2 separate regions of the Homo sapiens genome follow, and region 2 is linked to region 1. The links come from fine-mapping of genetic effects on gene expression. Tissue or cell type: whole blood. Region 1 holds a variant in brackets; the other region holds the start of a gene. All regions are shown on one strand. Distances are between the middles of the regions.

Evidence for each region. PIP is the estimated chance that this variant, and not a neighbour inherited with it, causes the effect.
Region 2: PRKCA starts here. The variant in region 1 is fine-mapped to the expression of PRKCA in whole blood (TOPMed, PIP 0.97).

What each region holds. Positions count from the first base shown.
Region 1 is chr17:66,538,952-66,546,616 of GRCh38, reverse strand. All of the region lies in intron 3 of PRKCA (protein kinase C alpha), which reads right to left. Among named protein-coding and RNA genes, the nearest start is that of PRKCA-AS1, 130 kb to the right of the region's middle. RefSeq lists a silencer at 4,137-4,186. The variant A/G (reference allele first, on the strand shown) is at 4,271.
Region 2 is chr17:66,299,640-66,304,639 of GRCh38, reverse strand. PRKCA (protein kinase C alpha) reads right to left here and starts at 2,027. Exons shown (of 17, transcript NM_002737.3): 1 at 1,616-2,027. The coding sequence starts at 1,788. RefSeq lists an enhancer at 732-1,233.

The DNA of each region.
Region 1 (7,665 bases):
AGGAAAGAAAGATTTGGAAATGGCAGGCACACACAGAGGGAAGATGGCCATGTGAACACAGAGGCGGAAACTGGAGAGATGCAGCCACAAGCCAATGAACATAGAGGATTAGCGGCAACTAACACAACGTAGGAAAATGCAAGGAAAGATTCTTGCCAAGAGCCTTCAAAGGAAGCATGACCCTGCCAAGGCCTTAATTGTGGACTTCTAGCTTTCAGAACTGTGTATGAATACATTTCTGTTGTTTTGAGACACTCTATGTTAATCTGTTATGGCAGCCTTAGAAACTAATACAGCTAATCATATTAGAAACTAATACAACCAAACATAATAAAATGAAGTAATTAAAAATACTCATCCCAACAGAAGGAAAAAGGGAACAAGAGGATGAACTGAATGCAAATAAAAGGATAGTGGTCATTAAATGTAAATTATAATCCCATGTAAATTAATGATAATTCCATTACATATAAATGGTGTAAAGACTGCAATTAAATGGCAAAGATTGTCACAGCAGATAAAAAAGGACCAGACTACATACTGATACTGTCTATATGAAACTCGTTTTAGACTTAAAGACACAGATATATGAAAAGTAAAAGGATAAAAAACGAAGTATCATGGTAACATTAATCTAAAAGAAAGCTAGACTGGCCAGATTAATATCAAACAGTAAATTTCAGAGCAAAATTAACAAGTCTCAGTAAGGTTTATTCTCATACAAAATCTAATTTACTTTTTTTCCTAAAAGAAAAATGAATATGGTAAATGACTTTCCAATCACATGACACACTTCATATTTTCCACCAACATTCACTAAACACTTGGATTCTGCAGGAAACATTCTGCACTGACTATGATTTCTATAATGATCAGATTTTTTTAATGTTCTTCTCTTTTGTATTTGTAGTGATAAAATTTTGCCTGACATTTTTCCTTGAAGAAAGTAAACATAGCCTGCCACAAAAACTGATATTGACAGAGCCTCAGTGGTTAAGCCTTTTTTTCTCATTAATTCTCCCGATATTTTAGCTCTAGTAATCTAGCCCTAGACAAAAACACTGGTAGCTCACACTCAGGAATGCATGATGTGATGTAGGATTAAAAAAAATAACAGTCTTACTACAAGGATACAAACATTTTTTAAAGTAAAGTCATACAGTATGTAGATAAATTATCTGTTTTTTTGAGACAGAGTCTCGCTCTGTCGCCCAGGCTGGAGTGCAGTGGCACAATCTTGGCTCACTGCAAGCTCCGCCTTTTGGGTTCACGCCATTCTCCTACCTCAGCCTCCTGAGTAGCTGGGACTACAGGCACCCGCCACCACGCCTGGCTAATTTTTTGTATTTTTTAGTAGAGGCGGGGTTTCACCGTGTTAGCCAGGATGGTCTCGATCTCCTGACCTCGTGATCTGCCCGCCTTGGCCTCCCAAAGTGCTGGGATTACAGGCGTGATTCACTGCGCCCAGCCTAAATTATCTGTATTAAACTCCTGCAGCACTGACAAGTAGAAATAACATTTTTGAAAGCTCAGAGAAGTATTTTCCAACATTTGCTTAAGCCTAGAAAAAAGTCTGGCAATCAATAAACATTTGATTAACTTAAATAATGTAACTTTCGGTAAGTTACTTATCATTTCGTGATCTGTAAAATAGAGAAAATAATGGTAATTTATTAACCACCTAAGGAAATCGTAATAATTTACTTTTAAAAAATGATATTGGTGGTCGGACATGGTGGCTCATGCCTGTAATCCCAGCACTTTGGGAGGCCGAGGCGGGTGGATCACCTGAGGTCAAGAGTTTGAAACCTGCCTGACCAACATGGTGAAATCCCATCTCTACTAAAAATACAAAAATTAGCTGGGCATGGTGGCGCATGCCTGTAATCCCAGCTACTTGGGAGGGTGAGACAGTAGAATGGCTTGAACCTGGGAGGTGGAGGTTGCAGTGAGCTGAGATCATGCCACAGTACTCCAGCCTGGGTGACAAAGCAAGACTCACTCCATCTTAAAAAAAAAATGATATTGGTAATTCTTTCTTTGAATAAAGAAGACTAAAAGTACTGTAACAAGGCTTCATGTAACTCTCAATGTAAGGGAGTAACCTCATTTTCTGGAAAACTGAATATTTTCTTTTTATGTACTAAGGCTTGTTTTTAGTCTTTTCTTTTTTAAACCAGCATGTATACAAATATTTCTAAAACGCACTTTAAGTCCCTTGTTTTGTTAAACAAAATATGTCAATATACTTCAACATTTTCTCAATGATCACAGTGGTGACCTAGAATACTAGTGTTTATAGTATTTTGGTTCACAGCATTGGGTTCATGAACTACATGGGGGTCTTCTTCCTAAACTAAGTGGCCATGAGAAATCTTTTGTAGTTGTTGTTTGAGATGGGGTCTCGCTGTGTCGCCCAGGCTGCAGTGCAGTGGTCTGATCTTGGCTCACTGCAGTCTCCACCTCCCGGGTTCCAGCGATTCTCCTGCCTCAGCTCCCCCCACCACCCCAGTAGCAGGGACTACAGGTGTGCACCACCACACGTGGCTAATTTTTGTATTTTTTTTAGTACAGTCAGGGTTTCACCAAGTCGGCCAGGCTGGTCTCGAACTCCTGACCTCAAGTGATCTGCCTGCCTTGGCCTCCCAAAGTGCTGGGATTACAGGCGTGAGCCACAGCACCCAGCCTAGCAATCTTGTTTCTGTACAATTATGGGGCCTGCTGAAGTTCAGTCCTGCTCTCACTGAGTCTACTGTTTTACCATCCTCCCATTTTCTGCTTCTGACATTTGACACCAGAAAGCCAGCAAACCAGGCTTGTTCCAGAACTTTGGGGTGTAGCCTTTTCTATGGTGTAGGGTACATGGACTTCATGATGCCTCTTGGGATTGCTAAGTGTCTAACAATGTTCAATTCTGTCTTCACCACAGCACTATGTTGCTTCGTATTTCTGCATTATAAAATCTGCCTGATAAATAATCCGCTTGTTCCTCTCATATGCTGACAGATTTCTGCATGGTCAATGGAGCTTAGAGTATATAAAATACAAGTCTGGGAGAGTTTCCTTATAGTTCAAATATATAAATTTAATGTTCAAAAGAATGTAATTGTTTCAAGCAACATACTAGTAGACAAGCTGGAACTCACTGATTTCATTTCATTAGTCTCAAATAACAAAGGGTACTTCATAGCATCAAAAGCCAGACCTCACAATAACTTATGTTTTAGTATCTTACAGTATCTCATTATATAAATAATAAAATGACTAGGGTTTTGGTGAGAAGGAAGAGAGAAGAGCCACATGGTATTCAAAGAATGCCAGGAAACCACAAATACTGCATTCTTTTGAACATTAAATATACTTGAACTATAATGGAAACTCTCCCAGACTTACATTTTATATAAATACACTAAGCTCCATTCACTGTGAAGAAAACTGTCGTCATACGGAAGAAAATAAGTTGATTATTTATCAGGCAAAATTTATAACACAAAGTGCTAAATCAGGCACATTGCATTAAACATTATACTGACTATAAACAAGGATAGAAATTACGGAAGTGCATAGCTTTGGAAATTGAGTGAAAATAACAGCATAATTCAACTTTAATTGGATGCCTATAGATGAAACAATAATTGACTCTTAACTGTAACTCCAAGATATTTTATGACTATAACATTTTCTAAGTAATCTACTTGAAAAATACCTCATTGACTCATCAAATCCTATCTTTAAAATGTTACCCTCGTTCCAAGAAAATCACATGCATACACTAGAATGAAATGACTTGTCAAATATAATTTGAATCCAGTAAAACAAAAAAAGCATTAATCTGTACTTTCTCATTAATAGCAAGATAATTTTCCAAGTGAAACACACACAATACAATACACATTTGTTGAGACTCCCCAATGGCTCCCACTTGTCTTTCCAACCTTCATATCCTTCCACAGGCCTTTGCAGAGGAATCCCTTCCGACTATCAGTCTCTGAAGAATTCTCACACTTCCTGACACCACACCTCTACTCAGGGTGCTCTGCCCTCCCTACTTGGGACTATTGTGTCTCCTCACCCAAGTCTTATTGGAACATCTTTCCAGGTCCTTCATAACTGCTCTATTTCCCAAGAAGCCTTCTTGGGGCAGAAATAATCCCTCCTTGCTCTCACCCCCATGGTACTCAGCACCTGGTACTCTCATGTGCGACTTCTATGCTCTGGGTTTTCTCACAGCACACATGGCTTACTAACTGCCTATCTCCCAACCACACAC[A/G]GGAAGCTCTTAAGGCCAAGTAGCACCACTGTATGTCCACAGAAACTAGCACAAAGACTGTGCACATACAAATTAATTGCAAACCACATCGTGAAAATCCTAAGCATAAAGAAAGAAAAAGGTCATATTTTAATCACCATCTAATACAGAACAGTTTCTTAAGGCCTCTCTGTAATAATTTTAAAGTTAAGGGGAAAATGCTTGGCTCAGTCCACTCCGTATAAACTCCTTAAACATTAACTAGTAATTTTAAAAGCATGAAATGACTTTCTCCCCTGGGGCTTTATATAGAACCATAATAACCGCAACACGAGCTTCAGGACTCTGCAATTGCCTGATACTAAAGTCCCACTGTGAGATTCCACGTGGTGGCTTGTTATCAGCCTTACATAGAACAAATGTGGTCAGCCAAAAATTTACTGTGGGGCTCAAAAACATTTTAGGGGCTCATACAAGCTTAGGGCCTTGACATTTAAGTGATAACTGAGAGGCATGCACTGATAGAAAATCCTCAGAGACTCAGAAGAGTTTTAAACAATGCAGTTGTACATTTTTATAGGGCACATGTTCTGAAACCTCAAAAATAGATATGTAAATGTCATCTGAAGCTGTGTCATTTTTACTTAATTTTTGGCATAACCTGTCGCCTCAAAAAGTCTTTGTGGCTTGTGTATGGCAGGCAAACGGTGTCAGATGCACTTCCAAAGTGCCATGAGGCGTGGACTGGACGTCAGCTCTGCTTTGCACGTGCAATTCCTGCCTGCAGAACTGCAGCTAGCATCTGCTGCCTCTGGCATCTGCTGCCTCTGGATGAGCCTCTATTTGGAAAGTGGGAATTATTTTTTCTTCCACATCCAAGACCAGCAGAGTAGCTTTCAATCCCAGTCAACTGCTCTTTGCCGCAGAAATCAATATAAGCAACAGAGGAAAAAAACAATAAAGGGGCTAAGCCTCCAAAATCTTGCATTTTCCCTTGGCTCGGGCAAAGGTCCCCTCATTTCTTTCAAGAACACCAGAGGCAAGAGTTTGAGGTGGGGGCCGCAGGAGCACGTACCACAAGACCTTCTTACTGAGCCACAATCTGCAGCTAACTCTTGGTCAATCTGTGCAGTGGAGAAGCGGCACACAACATATCAAAATCTAGTTAAAAAATAAAACAAAACCCCTCATGGTCACATCTTTGTTCAAACTATCTTACTAGAGCTCGTGCTTCCAAAGAATCAGATAGACTCATTTGAGAGTCTACTCTAAATCTTGCCCTCCCCTGTAGCTGGAATGGTCCCTAAACAGCTCTGAGATGGCCAGAGAATACCAGTGGAAACAGCTAGTAACAGCCACTTCCTACCTCTGTAGGGTTCTACCAAATACTTGCACATACCTTGTCTTATTTGGTCATTTTCCACAGTGTGGGATACCATAGGTGTGACCATTTTCTCAGCTGAGAAAAGGGAGGCTCAGGGAGTGCACAGAGAAATATACAACGGAATAGGTCCAGGAAGTGCCAGATCTCGAGGTCAAACCATGATACTAATAATTACCCTCGACTGCCTCTGTTGTAAGCCACCATATTCAATCTTTTGATAGACAGAGAAATGGGAGACTCAAACAAGTGACAGAGACAGAACCGGGGGTTTCACACAAGGTCTCACAGAGCCTACAGCCTGAATTCCGTCTCAGCCTAGGAACCCTCTGCAAAATCCAGATGTTTTGCCTTCAGGCCCAGCTGGCCTTCGACCACAGAGCACTCACAAAGTGCAGCAGGGCCCCGCTGGGAGGCCCCACTCCACTCCGAGTGCTGCTTCTAACTGCAGCCCCCGCACGGCAGCCCGCCACCCAACTGACTGCTCTGGGCTATTTATGAGATGGTCCCTGCTCTCGGGAGACGTCCCTCTTTGGATTATTCATCCTCTCCTCACCCCCAAAGCAGCAAAACCAGCACACGCCGTCCCCCCAGCGTCAAGCCCCACTCCAGGGTTTGCAGGCAGCTGCCTCCCTCTCCGCCCCCTCTTTTAGAGACAGTCAGGGCTCCAGACTCTCCGCTGGGCTCTGTGCTGAATGTTACCCTTTGTCTCAGAACCCTGGGCTGGCTCTGACGGCTGGAAAGCCTGAACAACAATGATGAATCAGAGTATTTATTTTTGAGGTTTTCTCCAAGCTGCCTCTTCATCAGCTCTGAAATAGCAGCATTCAAGCTGCCACAGACACTTCCCGAAGTTTGCTGGCCTAGGGTTCCCAATGGGGAAAACATCACCTCCCTGGCAACAAACACAACAGCCTCCTAACACCCCTTCTGCAGGAGAGGCACCAACTGCATCTCTCCAAAAGACGGGTGGCCTACATGTTTAAATTGATTTTCGAAATTATTTTCAAATCCCTCGGGTTGCGTGAGCAAGGGTGGATTTCTATTTCTAAGTGTGGTGACCTTTTCTAAAACTGTTTTATGCTTTTCACTCTTCTGTGATTGGTGCCACCTAGGACTGCACACTGCATTCATTTGGTGTGTCTGAGTGAGCTGTTTAATCCAGAACAAGGAAACTCATCCCTTCAAATCTGAATTAAAGAAGCATCTCTCTGGGTACGATGAGGTTTTCTGATGTAAAACTCTCATCTAAAAGTTAGCCATTCTTATTAAGATTGAAACCTTAGGCCGGGCGCGGTGCTTACGCCTGTAATCCCAGAACTTTGGGAGGCCAAGGCGGGCAGATCACAAATCAGGTGATCGAGACTATCCTGGCTAACACAGTGAAACCCCATCTCTACTAAAAATAAAAAAAAATTAGCTGGATGTGGTGGCGGGCGCCTGTAGTCCCAGCTACTCAGGAGGCTGAGGCAGGAGAATGGCGTGAACCTGAGAGGCGGAGCTTGCAGTGAGCCGAGATCACGCCACTGCAATCCAGCCTGGAGGACAGAGCAAGACTCCATCTCAAAAAAAAAAAAAAGATTTCAAAGCTTAAATTAAATGAATTTAATGAAATAACTAGCCTTGCAAAAGGGAAACGTAAGAATAACTCACAAATTAGAAAAGTATTGTTTCTTGCTGTGCTGCTTGATGGCTTGTCACAGCAGAACAATATCCTCCACCCAAAGCGTTTATTTACACACATACACTCAGCCTGACGTTTAAGAGTGCAAAGGAGTTTTTAAAAAAGGCAGCTGGGGAAAAAACAAGAGTGAAAATCTGAGGACACCACACAGAAATACAATGATGTCTACACATGAAACTCAGTCTCCAATAAAAAATGTTTTAGTACATTTGCCTGTGAACAGATGAGCTTTGGTAAGTGTTGAGATCAGAAGGGAGTGGACTGTTCTTTTCATCACAGTTCCGAAGATAAAAGGAGAAGTACAGACTGCTGATAAAAGTCTGGCAGCATAACTGTTAATATGCCTATGCC
Region 2 (5,000 bases), 240 kb after region 1:
ATGTTTTTCCCCAGGTGTGATGGATTCCGACAGAGCCATCCATACTATGCTCACCCTAGTGGCCCAAGATACCTGTGCCACACAGCTGGCTGGTGGCAGGATTCACTCCGTGACTGCCACCCTGTGCAGCTCCCCCTGGCCTAGAAGGAGAGGGAGCTAAGAAGCCCTAGCCATAGCTCTGTCTTGCCCGGAACTTCCTACACCACAAAGAAGAGGTAGAAGAGTCAGGACGTCGGGCAACTTAAAAGAAAAACCAAACTACTGCTGCTCTAACTAGAGGACCTAGAGCTCCTTTAGTTCCAGCTTTCAAAACTTTTGTGTGGTGACGGGGATCTGGGAAGAAGGGTCACACACCTTTTGAGGATCAGATGAAAGCTGTAATTCTCTCACCAGGAAAAAGATTCACAAACACAATTTCCCTCAGTTTTACAGGGTTCAGAGACCCCTGAAGCCCTTCTATGTATCGATTCTCCATAAGCCCCCAGGGACCCTCCGAGTTAAGAATGCCTGAATTCATTGGCGATTACCTGATCTCTGACCTCTGGCCCTTATATTATTTTTCTTAAATAAGGCCTCTGCCCTCATCAACAGGGTTACAGGTCTAATCTCGAGTTGACAGGGTCTGTTTCATTTTTTTTGAGACGGAATCTCGCTCTGTCTCACCCAGGCTGGAGTGCAGTGGCCCGATCTCGGCTCACTGCAGCCTCCGCCTCCCGGGTTCAAGCGAGTCTCCCGTCTCAGCCTCCCGAGTAGCTGGGATTACAGGCGTGTGCCACCACGCCCGGCTAATTTTGTATTTTTAGTAGACGGGGTTTCACCATGTTTGCCAGGCTGGTCTCGAACTACTGACCTTAGGTGATCCGCCTGCCTCGGCCTCCCAAAGTGCTGGGATTACAGGCGTGAGCCACCGCGCCTGGCCGACAGGGTCTATTTTAAATGAGTCCCTCTGCCCTTGTGCCATTTGCCTGCTAGAACTCCCCCTCCCCCACTGCAAGCTTTCAACAGTTTGCTCTCTCTCTCTCTGCTCACTCAGAAAAGTCAGTCTCTCCGTGCCCAGTAGATGCAGCCTACAGTAGGCAGGGGCCCAAGATGCCAGCGCAGTCCAGCCCGATGGGAAGCACAAACACAACCCCCCCACCCCGAACGCGCCCAGCCTGGCTCGCCAGCAACTTGGACCGCGCGCAGTGCAATCGCCGCCGCTCCCCCGTTACTCCGGGGCGCGTTTCTCCGGGAACCTTTGCCCCCTTAGGGCCTCTCCTCCTCCCCTGTCCCCTGGGCTCACACCCCGGCAAGCGGCCGCTCCGCTGGGTGCGTGCGGGTGGGCGCGCCCGGGGAGGTGAGGGGCCCGGCCCGGAGAGGGATCCCCTTCGCCACCGTACGGGGCCAGCCTCCCTCTCGCGCCAGGGGGTGTGTGTGGCGGGACGGCGACGTCCCGGGAGTCCTGCCCGCCGGTGTCAGGGCCGGGCGCGCGTGTCACTCCGGGCGAAGAGTTCGGACTCCCGCCGGTTCCAAGTTATCGGAGTGAGCCAGCCCCGGGGCGGACGCGCCGGAGCGCCGGGTGCCGGGACCCGGAGGCGGGGAGGAGCGGGGCAGGAGTGCCCGGCCCGGCACCTACCAGATGAAGTCGGTGCAGTGGCTGCAGAAGGTGGGCTGCTTGAAGAAGCGCGCGATGAATTTGTGGTCCTTCACCTCGTGCACGTTCTTCTGCCTCAGCGCCCCTTTGCGGGCGAAGCGGTTGGCCACGTCCTGAGACGCCGTGGAGTCGTTGCCCGGGAAAACGTCAGCCATGGTCCCCCCCAACCACCTCTTGCCTCCGCCGGGGAGCTGCGGCCGCGGAGGGCCGGGTGGGCGGGGGCGGCGGGGGAGAGGTGCGGGCTCGGGGCGACCCCGGGCGCGGGGCGCGGGCCGGTGGCCGAGGTCGCGGCGAGGGGGCGCGGCGGGGGCCGGGGAGAGTCGGGCTGGTGCTGCGCGGAGCGGGAGCGGGAGCCGGAGCCGCTGGCTCGCCCGCTGGCCCCAGGCTCACTGACAGCCCGGTGCCCGGCGCTCGCGCTTCCTACTCGCGGCGGCAGAGGCGGCCCGGAGCGGCACCGCCCACCGCGCATGCCCCGAGCGCGAGGCCGCGAGGACGAGCGGCGGGGGCGCGCGGGCCGGGCGCGCGCGGGGGTGCGGCGAGGGTGCGGCGGCGGCGGCGCTGAGCGGACCGGACCGAGTGCGGAGGAGGCAGCGAGTGCCTTGCGGTGCTGGGAACACTGGGCAAGGGGAGGCGGCGGCGGCGGCGGCGGCGGCGGCGGCGGCGGCGGCGGCGGCCGGGGGAGGGCCGGCCCGAGTGGGGATGCGGGGGAGGAGGCCGGGAGTGGCGGGTCCGCGCTCCTCCGCCGCCTTTTTCTTTCCTCCCCTTCCTGCGCCCGGCTCTCCTCCCTCTCGCCCTCCTCCGCCTCAGTTCTCCTCCTCTTCTTCCGCTCTTGCCGCCCGGCCTCCTCCTCTCCCGGTCTTCCTTCTCCCACTCCCGCTCTCTCTCTTGTCGACGGGCTCGGAGTCCTGCGCCACCCGTGCCGGGCCGAGAGGAGCCCGCGTCCGGGAGTGGGCTCCACGCGCAGCCCCTGCCCCGGAGCCTCCCGCCCGGTGCTCACCTCCTAACCCCTCAGCACCCGCAGCAGGGAGCCCCTTCCCCATCCTCAGGACCCCCGGTGTCTCCAGGGCACGACGCCCGTGTTTTAGCTGCCTGTACCAGCTTGAGGTTTCACCTGGCCAAAATGTCACTTTCATCACGTGTGCACTAAAAGACCTAGCCCCTAGACCTTCCTACAGGAGGAAGAGAGCGATTTTTAAATAATTAAGCATTGACCCTTTCCCCTACCTTCTCTTCTTGACCTATACCTTATTTCACCTGCGTGTGGTAGAGACTTTTAATTTGTACGTCGGGCATTTATCACCACGTGGGATGGTTAAAGGACTTGTCTTAGGTATTTATCCCGTTATTCAATGGCCACCAGAGCGACGATGTTGATTATCAGGCTTTCTTGATTTTACAAGTCCAGGACCTTAATTTAGAAATCATTTTGCATCCCAAGCTAATTACTGCAATACTGTCAGGTGCAGAGTGCAGCCAGTACGTTTGTAACTTACCAAGTAAAACTGCCTGTGAAAGAGTAGCGGGCATGGCTATGCAAAGGACGCAGGTGGGGATGCACCAGCTAATCACTCGCTGAATATTTATCAGGTCTGCCTGGAGGCCGCTAAAATACATAAGGGAAATAATCATTTCTCAGCGTTTCATTGGTGTTTTGTTTTATTTGCCAGATTCACGAAATCCCCAAAACGACTTTACGAGCTAAAGAGACCAAGAAAGAGAACACGTTTGATCCTTCAATAAATTTATGTTGAAAAAAAAAACTTTTCTAAAATACTTTCTTAGAGCATGTAACATAGGCCAAGTAGAGCTAATATTGTTTTCTTTGAGATTGCCTAATTGTGATGCTTGATGATAGGAATGTCCTTTATATTTTTAACAAATGGAAGCTCTCCTGACTGGCCGTCAGTGGTGCATGCACTTGACTGATCCATTTACAATCTCTTGAGCCAGTCTTGGTGCTTCAAGAGCCTGCACCTGCCTGGTATTCTAGCTGGTCAGAAATTTCGCCACTCATGGTCGCCCCTCGGGTCCAAGGAGTCAAAAAGGGAAGAAGCAAAGAGGAATGAAGAGCAGGGCATGTTGGGGAAATAGTCCCAATTCTCCATGAAACACTAGAAGCATCTCAAGCCATGGTGGTTTATTGCTTGAAAGCAGAAATCAAATGGAACATAGTGGAATGAAATAATTTCTTTTCTCATAGTCGTCTTTTATCTAAGACGGAGATCCTGGCACATTTTACAAAGACAAGCTTATTTCTATGTCCCTGAGGCTTTCATAGGAGGATGGAGAGAGCTGGAGGGTGAAGTTGCTGATAATGGAATCCTGAGTAAAGTCATAGGAAAGACAAGAACAGAATGAGCCCTGGCAGCAGCCTGCGAATCTCCTGTGTACTCCATGGAGTGACTGTCTTAGCTGTCAGTAGATCAGATGGAACAATGTGTCTGTTTTCTTTTAGGTTGTGGCTTTGCATTCTTGCCTCAGTTGTTAGTGTTGTTCCTGGTGGGTACGAGGAGGAATGATTGACTGGAAGTCAACTGATTCATGGTTGGGCTGGGCATGAAAGCATCAATAGCCCACATCTTAGCTCAGTTGGGGAGAGGGGACTGTGCACCCAGAGTGGGGATTTATCAATTACCAAGCAGTGTAACACTGTCCCTAGCAAGGACTGATGGAAATGTGGGCCAGCATCTACTCCTGCAGCCTACCTGAAGTCCCCATGGTATAACTAAAATGGAGGAGATTAAGGACGGGAGAACCCCCTGGGTTGGGGGTAGTCAGTCAGTCATGAGGGCATGAGTAAATTTTATTTTCGAGTCTGCTATTTCATGGGGAAGGTGCGGGAAAAGAACAGGGAATGTCAGACTGAACGCAGAGTTTTTCAGAATCCGCTTCTGTCCTCTGCCTTTGAGGAGTAAGCTCAACACTGTTTGGAGAGGTGTCACCTAGACCAGGGGGACCCAGAGGCTGGAGGCTGGGATCAAAGTCAGACCACCAAACAGATGACTCAGAATCCCAATGGTTTGAAGCCAGCGGTCTTTCAGATACAATTTACAGCTTGCTGCTCTATGCAGCTAACTGGACTGTTTTCAAATGAACCAGGACATTTTCAAATTGGGCAATAGGAATTGCATAAGTATCGAAAAAGCATCATTCTGAGATTTATGGTAACCAAGATGACTTAAGGCTTATATTTTATTCTATGCACCATATTCAAGGTTTAGGAGAGGCAAGGCAACTGCCGAAATGCGTAAGCAGGCAGCAGTCAGATTCACTGTAACTGGCAGATCTCTAAACAGGTAGAGGTGAGGATCTACCTGAGTAGCAGAACACTAGAGTCAGGGGCCATTTTGGGGTAAGTTTAAGGAGC